Homo sapiens: one gene and its partners. The protein of the gene in region 3 interacts with the protein of the main gene of each other region in a biochemical or structural test. Each region holds a gene or a part of one and is shown on either strand. Other genes may lie near its edges.

What was found.
Region 1: of the proteins of LYN (region 3) and NMT1, one has a biochemical effect on the other in vitro, tested with the Homo sapiens proteins (one study listed by BioGRID).
Region 2: the proteins of LYN (region 3) and BANK1 form a complex in vitro, tested with the Homo sapiens proteins (one study listed by BioGRID).

Annotation. Positions count from the first base shown.
Region 1 is NC_000017.11:45,067,664-45,071,316, forward strand, and holds part of NMT1 (glycylpeptide N-tetradecanoyltransferase 1), read left to right. Parts: intron 1-3,653.
Region 2 is NC_000004.12:101,797,088-101,800,740, forward strand, and holds part of BANK1 (B-cell scaffold protein with ankyrin repeats), read left to right. Parts: intron 1-3,653. UniProt on the Homo sapiens protein: Involved in B-cell receptor (BCR)-induced Ca(2+) mobilization from intracellular stores. Promotes Lyn-mediated phosphorylation of IP3 receptors 1 and 2.
Region 3 is NC_000008.11:55,945,745-55,949,397, forward strand, and holds part of LYN (tyrosine-protein kinase Lyn), read left to right. Parts: intron 1-703; coding exon 704-749; intron 750-1,873; coding exon 1,874-1,979; intron 1,980-3,653. UniProt on the Homo sapiens protein: Non-receptor tyrosine-protein kinase that transmits signals from cell surface receptors and plays an important role in the regulation of innate and adaptive immune responses, hematopoiesis, responses to growth factors and cytokines, integrin signaling, but also responses to DNA damage and genotoxic agents.

The DNA of each region.
Region 1 (3,653 bases), on a different chromosome or scaffold from region 3:
TTTTTAATTTCTCCCTTCAACTTTTGGTTTTTCAAAACTAGATCAAAGCAGAATGGAAAGAGAAACCTCATCACTGATATCAAATAAGTGTTCTAATTTTGTTTCCCAATTAAATGGCAATTAAAAAGAAACTAATCAAGAGCTGCTTCAAAGAGAAGAGACTGGAAAGCAGAAGAAATGGAAAGTAAATGAGAGCCTATTTCAGGGACTCGCTGCTCATGGCACAGCAGTTTTGCTGATTTTTCACATTGTTCAACTAATATGCTCACGCTAAAATTCCCCAGCTTTACTAAGTTGGCAGTTAACCCTTTCCCTATAGAGCCCATAGATTTATGAGCCATACATTTAGTAACTTCAGGAGGATGCTTCTTTAACTCTTTCTCTTCAGCTTTTTATCTGAAATCTCTACCCTTCAGGCCTCTCTTCCAATTCCTCAAAGAAGATGTCCTTGTGATTGTTACATTTAAGGGACAAAAATATGGTGTTCTCTATTGAGAGCGCCAAAAATACTAAACCGGAATTCCTCCATAGGCTCAGTATTTGCCTCAAAAATGTCCCAGCACTTTGAGAGGCTGAAGTGCGCAGATCACTTGAGGTCAGGAGTTCGAGACCAGCCGGGCCAACATGGCAAAACCCCATCTCTACTAAAAATACAAAAATTAGCTGGGCGTGGTGGCACACACCTGTAGTCCCAGCTACATGGGAGGCTGAGACAAGAGAATCACTTGAACCCGGGAGGCAGAGGTTGCAGTGAGCCCAGATGGCGCCATTGCACTTCAGTCTGGGCGACAGAGAGAGCCTCCATCTCAAAAAAATAAACAGAACAACAACTTTCTAGAGCTGCTCTCTTGAGAGACAACTGAGGAGTCACTATGGTTAAGTGTTTAGTAAATGTTACTATTATTACTACGTAGTGGGCATTGTGCTAAGCCCTTTACTTGGATTATATCCTCCATGATTTCACTTATGAAGACTTTAGCGATTTTTGTTTGTTTGTTTCTTTTTTTGAGTCTCACTCTGTCGCCCAGGCTGGAGTACAGTGGCACGATCTTAGCTCACTACAACCTCTGCCTTACAGGTTCAAGCAATTCTTGTGTCTTAACCTCCCAAATAGCTGGGATCACAGGTGTGCACCACCATTCCCGGCTAATTTCTGTATTTTTAATAGAGACACGGTTTTGCCATGTTGGTCAGGCTGGTCTCGAACTCCTGGCCTCAAGCAGTCCACCTGCCTTGGCCTCCCAAAGTGCTGGGATTATTACAGGCGTGAGCCACCATGCCTGGACTTTAGTTTTTTGTTTTTTTGGGTTTTTTTGAGACAGAGTCTCACTCTGTCGCCCAGGCTGGAGTGCAGTGGCGCGATCTCGGCTCACTGCAACCTCTGCCACCCAGGTTCAAGCGACTCTCCTGCGTCAGCCTCCTAAGTAGCTGGGATTACAGGTGCCTGCCACTGTGCCTAACTAACTTTTGTAGTTTTAGTAGAGACGGGGTTTCACCATCTTGGCCAGGCTGGTCTTGAACTCCTGACCTCGTGATCCATCCTCCTTGTCCTCCCAAAGTGCTGGGATTACAGGCGTGAGCCACCATGCCTGGCCAGACTTTATTTTTTATTATTTATTTATTTATTTATTTATTTATTTATTTTTGAGACAGAGTCTCGCTCTGTTGCCCAGGCTGGAGTGCAGTGGCGTGATCTTGGCTCACCACAACCTCCACCTCCCAGGTTCCAGTGATTCTCCTGCCTCAGCCTCCTGGATAGCTGGGACTACAGGCACATGCCACCACGCCCAGCTGATTTTTGTATTTTTAGTAGAGATGGGGTTTCACCATCTTGGCCAGGCTGGTCTTGGAACTCCTAATCTCGTGATCTGCCCACCTCAGCCTCCCAAAGTGCTGGGATTACAGGCATGAGCCACCACTGCGCCCAGCTAGACTTTAGTTTTTATAGTGAGGCTTGAGATTTGCATCTCCACTGGTCTCTTTGACATCTCAGAGGATCCATTCTGAACTTGCTAGGTTTCTTTCCCCTGCTGAATTGAGTTCTGCATCTTGAGTCTGCAGCAGTGTGAATCCTATCTTTGGCTCCATTTAACAGCCTATGGACGTTCCCAAACTTGGGACCCAGTTTGTCTCTTCATGATAGACAAATATTATTTTCAGAAGTCATTCTAATCGCACCACTGCACTCCAGCCTGGCAACAGTGAGACTCCATCTCAAAAAAAAAAAAAAAAGTCATTCTAGTAGGTGAGATTTCTGCCAGCATTGAGCCACTGCTCAACATATTCTTGATAATGGTCTCTGAACAGCATTTGATTTTACCTTGGAGTTGCAAAGTCAAAGTCTAACTCGCCAAACAAACTCAGTGTGGAATATACACATTTGTCTCATTCCGGTTTTAAGGAGTTTAGTATACCAGAGCTTTTGTGACCTCTAAAAAGCAGTTATCGTCCATGACAAGAATTGGCTCGTTCACCCTCAGTACTCTGGCTTACTATCCCAGGGAGGGCCGAGGGTGGCAGCAAAAGTGGTCTTTTGTAATCCCTTTTTATAACCTGCTGTTCTCTTCACAGACCTCCCAGGGTACCTTTTTTTGTGTGTGTGTGTGTGAGATGGAGTCTCACTCTCACCCAGGCTGGAGTGCAGTGGCGTAATCTCGGCTCACTGCAACCTCTGCCTCCTGGGTTCAAACTATTCTCTTGCCTCAGCCTCTCAAGTAGCTGGGATTACAGGCACCCGCCACCATGCCTAGCTAATTTTTATTTTTTATTTTTGAGACAGAGTCTCGCTCTGTCACCCAGGCTGGAGTACAGTGGCGCGGTCTTGGCTCACTGCAAGCTGCGTCTCCCGGGCTCACGCCATTCTCCTGCCTCAGCCTCCTGGGTAGCTGGGACTGTAGTCGCCCGTCACCACGCCCGGCTAATTTTTTGTATTTTTAGTAGAGACGGGGTTTCACCGTATTAGCCAGGATGGTCTCGATCTCCTGACCTCATGATCCGCCCACCTCGGCCTCCCTAAGAGCTGGAATTACAGGCGTGAGCCACCGCGCCTGGCCAATTTTTGTAATTTTTAGTAGAGAAGGGTTTTGCTATGTTGGCCAGGCTTGTCTCGAGCTCCAGACCTTAGGTGATCTGCCCGCCTTGGCCTCCCAAAGTGCTGGGATTACAGGCATGAGCCACTGTGCCCAGCCCCAGGGTACCTTGATGGCAGTACTAAAGTGTTTTTATTTTTCCCATCATTTGGGATTCACAAGCAGTTTTTGATATAACTAATTGGTGGGAATGTGCGGAGTTGGGGGTATTGCACTGAGTGATCCTTAGCCGCAGAAGTACAGAGACTAGACAGCTGATACTGATTCATGCCATGTCATTTCCTTCTGGGCATCTTTGCCATTTCATTCACCTCTCTTTGGTCTTTCTGAGTACTAATAGGATTATTAGTGAACTTACCATACTTCAAGAGTTAATTGATTTGCAAAAGGATTTCCTGATGTCTAAAAGTAGAATCAAAAGGATATTAGAGGTTAGAGTTTATTTTAATAAGTTTCTCTGGAAAATTTGAATTTCTGCCCAAAAAATTCATTTTTTATTTGAGACAAGGTTTCACTCTGTCACCCAGATCGTAGTGCCATGGTGCAGTCCTCCTACTTCAGCCT
Region 2 (3,653 bases), on a different chromosome or scaffold from region 3:
TAGAAAGTATAGTATCTCCATTAAGTTATACATAGTGTGTTATTAATGTTCACCTTAGAAAACAAGAATTCAATGTGTTCTTGCTAAACTTCAGTGACAGGAACAAATTAATAAAGTTCAGATGTGATCAATTAAGTCCAATGATGTCAGTGAAGAAATGAGACACAGAAAGACAAAATTTTTTCAAGATGTGACAAGGTTACACTCACAATGTTATTATAATGAGTGAGGAGAAGAATCTGAAAAGTAAACCAAAACCTAATTGCATAAATTTGTGTAAAAAATTCCCCAAGTATAATGAGGAGCTCTTGAAGAGTTTTTAATGAGGGATGGCACATGATTAGATTTTGTGTTAGAAGATCACATGAGCTGCTCTTGATACAATTAATTGGAAAAGGGCAGCAATGGAAGTTAGTGAACAATTAGGGGTTTGCAATGAGTAAAAATACAGGGAGAAGTGGACAGATTTATTAAGAACTATTACTTACATACCTTTTGTGATATAGTAGATTTGGAGTCTGAAGGGGACAAAAATGTGAAGAATGACACCAAGGGTTGTGGTCTGTAAACCTAAGAGAATCAAGAATGTGTCATTTACTCCATTGGAAAGGAGTGAAGGAACAAGAGGACACCGGGAGGGCATGAGAGAATGTCATTTCAATTTCAGATCTGTTACATTTGAGGAGCATGAGAAATAGTCACATTAAGATGTCAAGTAAGCAGTTCGATTTTAGGATCTGGATATCAGAAAGGCAGTTCAGACTGGAGATATAAAATTAAGAAAAACATTGTATTTAAAACTACAACAATGAATAGGATAACATAGATAAGGTGACTCAGGATAGAGACCTGTGGAAAACAAACATTTCAGTGTTGGTAGAGAAGGAGGAGTTGCTCAATATGACTGAGGAGAGGCTAAAAAGAAGGAAAACGAAGATACAGTGAGAAGAATTCAAAAATAGAATGTTTCAGGAAGGTAAGAATGGTGAACTGGCCCAAATTCTTTTGATAGGTCAGGCAAATTGAAGCCTGAAATTTAGCCAATGGATTTGGCATCATGAAACTTACAGATGACCTTAGAGAAGTAAGTAGCTTTAGTAAAGAGGATGAGAGCTGAATGGGAATGAGTGGAAGAAGGTAAGGTGATGGAGGCCATGGAGACGCCCTTTAGAAATATGGCTGTCTGATAAGCAGCTGAAGATGTGGCATCAAGGAAAGGATTTTACTTTCATTGTTGCTTTAAGATCAGTGTCACGGCAGCAATTTAATTGTTCTCAAAAGCCGATGGCGTCACACCAAAGGGGGGTTTTCTGCTATGAAAACTTATAGAGAACAGCTCCATGAATTCCATTAGTAATACATTTTAATGTGTAGATTTTCTTATGTGTTTAAGAATTTCTGTCTCTTCAAATGGTATTTCTAGTTCTAGATCCTTGAGGAATCGCCATACTATCTTCCACAATGGTTGGACTAGTTTACAGTCCCACCAACAGTGTAAAAGTGTTCCTATTTCTCCATATCCTCTCCAGCATCTGTTGTTTCCTGACTTTTTAGTGATTGCTATTCTAACTGGTGTGAGATGGTATCTCACTGTGGTTTTGATTTGTATTTCTCTGATGGCCAATGATGATGAGCATTTTTTCATGTGTCTGTTGGCTGCATAAATGTATTCTTTTGAGAAGTGTGTGTTCATATCCTTTGCCCACTTTTTGATGGGGTTGTTTGATTTTTTCTTGTAAATTTGTGTAAGTTCTTTGTAGATTCTGGATATTAGCCCTTTGTCAGATGGGTAGATTGTAAAACTTTTCTCCCATTCTGTAGGTTGCCTGTTCACTCTGATGGTAGTTTCTTTTGCTGTGCAGAAGCTCTTTAGTTTAATTAGATCCCATTTGTCAATTTTGGCTTTTGTTGCCATTGCTTTTGGTGTTTTAGTCATGAAGTCCTTGCCCATGCCTATGTCCTGAATGGTATTGCCTAGGTTTTCTTCTCAGGTTTTTACGGTTTTAGGTCTAACATTTAAGTCTTTAATCCATCTTGAATTAATTTTTGTGTAAGGTGTAAGGAAGGGATCCAGTTTCAGCTCTCTATATATGGCTAGCCAGTTTTCCCAGCACCATTTATTAAATAGGGAATCCTTTCCCCATTTCTTGTTTTTGTCAGGTTTGTCAAAGATGAGATGGTTATAGATGTGTGGTATTATTTCTGAGGGCTCTGTTCTGTTCCATTGGTCTATATCTCTGTTTTGGTACCAGTACCATACTGTTTTGGTTACTGTAGCCTTGTAGTATAGTTTGAAGTCAGGTAGCATGATGCCTCCAATTTTGTTCTTTTGGCTTAGGATTGTCTTGGCAATGCAGGCTCTGGGTATATACCCAAAGGATTATAAATCATGCTGCTATAAAGACACATGCACACGTATGTTTATTGTGGCACTATTCACAATAGCAAAGACTTGGAACCAACCCAAATGTCCATTAATGACAGACCGGATTAAGAAAATTTGGTGGCCGGGCCTGGTGGCTCATGCCTGTAATCCCAGCACTTTGGGAGGCCAAGGTGGGCGGATCACGAGGTCAGGAGATCGAGGCCATCCTGGCTAACACGGTGAAACCCCATCTCTACTAAAAACACAAAAAATTAGCCGGGCGTGCTGGTGGGTGCCTGTAGTCCCAGCTACTTGGGAGGCTGAGGCAGGAGAATGGCATGAACCTGGGAGGCGGAGCTTGCAGTGAGCTGAGATCGCACCACTGCACTCCAGCCTGGGTGACAGAGTGAGATTCCATCTCAAAAATAAGTAAATAAATAAATAAAATAAAATAAGGAAAATGTTGCACGTATACACCATGGAATAATACTATGCAGCCATGAAAAGGATGAGTTCATGTCCTTTGTAGGGACATGGATGAAGCTGGAAACAATCATTCTGAGCAAACTATCACAAGGACAGAAAACTAAACACTGCATGTCCTCACTCATAGGTGGGAATTGAGCAATGAGAATACTTGGACGCAGGATGCGGAACATCACACACCAGGGTTTGTTGTTGGGTGGGGGGAGGGGGGAGGGATAGCATTAGGAGATATATCTAATGTAAATGACAAGTTAATGGGTGCAGCACACCAACATGGCACATGTATACATATGTAACAAACCTGCATGTTGTGCACATGTACCCTAGAACTTGAAGTATAATTTAAAAAAAAAAAGAAAAGAAAAAGAATTTCTGTCTCGTATTTTTCATTCCTTCTTCTATGTTTCTGGAGCTCCTCCTTCTCTTCTTCCCATTCCTCTCCTCTTTCCTTTTTTCTTTTTTTGTTTTTTTGGTATTGATCTTAATGGAGAATAAATAGTTGACACTTCTTTCTGTGAAAGCCTTGGTACAGTGTTGAATTATTCCTTAGCTTTACTTTCTATATATCATCCCTTCCTTTTTATCCATATTGGAATCCATTCATTCTCGTTAAAATCCTGTTTTTGCATTTGCTTAGTAGTTACTGTCACAACTACTTGATAAAGCTCTACTCCTGAATAAATCTTTCTGGCTCTATTCTTCCTGTGTGAATCTAAGAGACTGACTATTGCTAGATAAAAACACATTCAAACAGGTTGGTAATATAAATTTAGGCAATTCTTGTTACACGTTACTTGTTTCA
Region 3 (3,653 bases):
TAACAGGGGATGCCATCTGTCCCTGTGATGGAGTCAGGGTCAGCCCAAGAAAACCTGGATGGGATGGGACTTGCTCTCAGCCTCCAGGGACAGAGCCCTGACCATGCAATTTTATACAATTGGGGAAGCCTCAGATGGGCAGTCCCAGGCTGGGACGGCAACTCCACGAAATCACCAGGGTCCCACCTCTTCCGTCTCCATCCTGCTGCCGCTGGTGTTTGCTTTCTATGTGAAGACTCCAGCCTTCACTTGTTTCTAGGGAGAGAGAAAGAGGCAAGGGAAAAGGGGAGCTGACAGCAAAGCCCTGCACAACCGATCTGCGGACCAAAACTCCCTCTGCCCTCTGCCCGGGGCTAGAGAGTTTGGAAGCACACTCATTGAGCTGGGCAAACTGCCACCCCAAATAATATTAGGGCTCTGTCACCAAAGAAGAGGAGGAGCTAGGATGAGGTGAGCACCTGGCACCTGCCCAGAACCTCGCTCCCTTCCTGCCACCCACAGCAAGTGATAAAGAGCCCTGTCACTGGCCAAGCAGGGCAGGATGCACCTCTACAGGTTTTTCCCTCTGTGCTCCTGTTCTTTCTGACTTAATAAATGAGCCCATCCTAACATCTGCTACTGTTACAAAAATCATATATACAACACGAATGTGAGTAAGAAAAGCTAAACAGAATTTTTTTTTCTAACAAATATTCTCTCGTAGGTTCCAGAATCTCAGCTTTTACCTGGACAGAGGTTTCAAACTAAAGGTATGTTTTCATAGCAACATAGTTAAAATTTTTTTTCTTTACTATTAGAGCTTCTATAAAGTGATTGTCCTAAATGTTTTTATTTTTTTTTATTGTGGGACATATATAACATAAAAATTTACCCTCTTAACTATTTTTAAGTATACATTTCAGCAGCATTAGGTACATTCACATTGTTGTACAACCAATACCGCCCTCCATCTCCAGAATGCATCTTCTCAAACTCCATACCCATTAAACAATAAGTCCCCATTGCCTCCTCCCCCAGCCGCTGGCAACCTCCGCTCTTTCTGTCTTTATGAATTTCACTACTCTAGGTACCTCCTAGAAGTGGAATCATACAGTAATTGTCCTTTTGTGTTTGGATTATTTCACTTAGCCTGATGTCCTCAAGGTTCATCCATGCTGTAGAAAGTGTTAGAATTTATTTCCTTCTAATAGTGAATAATATTTCCTTGTAAGTATATGCCCTGGCCGGGTGCAGTGGCTCACACCTGTAATCCCAGCACTTTGGGAGGCCAAGTTAGGTAGATCACCTGTGGTCAGGAGTTCGAGACCAGCCTGGTCAACATGGTGAAACCCCGTCTCTACTAAAAACACAAAAAATTAGCCAGGCGTGGTGGTGGGCGCCTGTAATCCCAGCTACTGGGGAGGCTGAGGCAGGAGAATAGCTTGAACCCAGGAGGTGGAGGTTGCAGTGAGCCGAGATTGCACTATTGCACTCCAGTCTGGGCGACAAGAGCGAGACTCCGTCTCAAAAGAGAAAAACCAAAATGCTACATGATGTTTATCCATTCCTCCATCAATAGATGTTTGCATTATTTCCACATCTTGGCTATTTTGAATAATCCTGCTGTGAACATGGGTGTATAATTTCTTAAATATAGAGTTGTATTTATAGTTTTAGTTTTAAGTGATTTGCAAGAACAAATACTGGACACAGTGTATACAGCAAGGTACTCTCTGTGGGCCGTGCAGACCCTGAGCCCACTAGGCAGGAAGCACATGTCCTTCTTCCAGTTGCCCCCTCTTAGTGCTTCCTCTCATCCTTTGTGCCCCATGAGGTTTGTTAAAACGCTTCTGCTGATGGATTCTTACAGGTGTTCTCTTGTGTTCATCTTTAGATCCAGAGGAACAAGGAGACATTGTGGTAGCCTTGTACCCCTATGATGGCATCCACCCGGACGACTTGTCTTTCAAGAAAGGAGAGAAGATGAAAGTCCTGGAGGAGTAAGTGCTCTCAAGCACGCCACGGCTGCTCGTTTCCTCAGGCCACTGAGTCCTGCAGGCTGTCCCCTTGTCTTGCTTCTGGTGCTACAGCCATAGCCCGGCCCCTTTCTTGTAATGGGTATGAGGCCTCCTTGCTACCCACAGGGAGTGGGCAGTGGAAGGAATAGAGCCAAAGGGATTTTCCTTTTAAGTCGGTCTGTGAGCACACTTCAGGGGGTTTCCCTTTGAAGACAGACAGTGGTTTTTCTTTAAAACAATTTTTTTTTTTGAGATGGGATCTCTCTCTGTCATCCAGGCTAGAATGCAGTGGCATGATCATAGCTCACTGCAGCCTTGAACTCCTAGGCTAAAGCAATCCTCTCACCTCAGCCTCCTGAGAAGCTAGGACTACAGGCATGTGCCACCAGGCCTGGCTAATTTTTAAAATTTTTGTAGAGATGGGATCTTGTTATGTTGCCCAGGCTGGTCTTGAACTCCTGCTGTCAAGCAATTCTCCTGCCTTGGCCTCCCAAAGTGCTGGGATTACAGGTGTGAGCCACCACACCCAGCCTGGTTTCTTTCTTTATCCACTCTTGCCACCTTAAGAAATTTGGGTCTGTGTGGCCCATGCATGATACTTGAAATGTCACTTTTCTTTTGTTATATTACTCATGTTTAGACTGGGTTCATGGGCCCAGCCTAGCTTGAGTTCTAAGGGTACTGAGCTACAGCAGCTGTGTTGGGAAATTCTCAACTCAGCAGCTGCCATGCTTTTGTGAGGACGCCTGAGTGTCGTCATCTCCTCAACCCCCTCTTGCTGACTCAGACATGTGGCAGTGTCAGACCATAGGCATGCAGGACAGTGCTCAGAATAAGAAACTCCAGTTGCTTTAATTCTAGCTTGCTTTTCTTACTAATCTTGCATTAAATGTCACTGTGACCTGCCAAATAGGGTTTGAGGGGGAGACTCCCTTATTAAGGACAAGGTGTTCCGTGGTTGAGAGCAATGTTGCATATGGGTTGAACAGGGACTTAAGCCTGATCCTGGCCCTGCCACTTGATAGCTGTATGACCTTGACAAGACCCTTAAACTTTATACCTTGGTTTCTTTACTTATAAAATGGGAATGACAGTACCTAGATCATGGGGTTGATGTGAGCATGATGCATGTGTTTAAACATGACATAAGCAAAGAGGATGCAGAGCTTAGTATTAGTTCTAGTTGCCTTCATGCCTTACAGACAAGGATCCTGTCTGTGTGTGGAATTTATAGAGGAATGCAGTTAAGGCTCAAAGGGACCCATTCCTTCCCCCATTACCAGCTTACCTGCTTGCTTCTTCCAGTGCTCATCCCTGCCTCCTCCCTGGCTCCATGCCTGCCTTTCTGCTGAGGACTCGAGCATGGTGCTGAAGCTCACTTGCTTGGAATTGTCTTATGGTTTTCTTCTTTTCATAGTGTCCATCTCTATGATAACTAGATGTTTGAACAAAGGAGTTTATAATGCATGAACTGTGGACCAGTATTCCCTTGACTCTCATTTCTATAAGGATTTGAAAGCATTTCTTAGCTATCCTGGGGCAAGTTACAAACCTTTTGTTTCTGTGAGATGGGAGCCATTTGTACCAACTCTTCTTTGTGCACCCCTGATCGCAGTGATGCGTGCTTTAGTTGTAAGGCTGTTTTCCTTTGCTTCT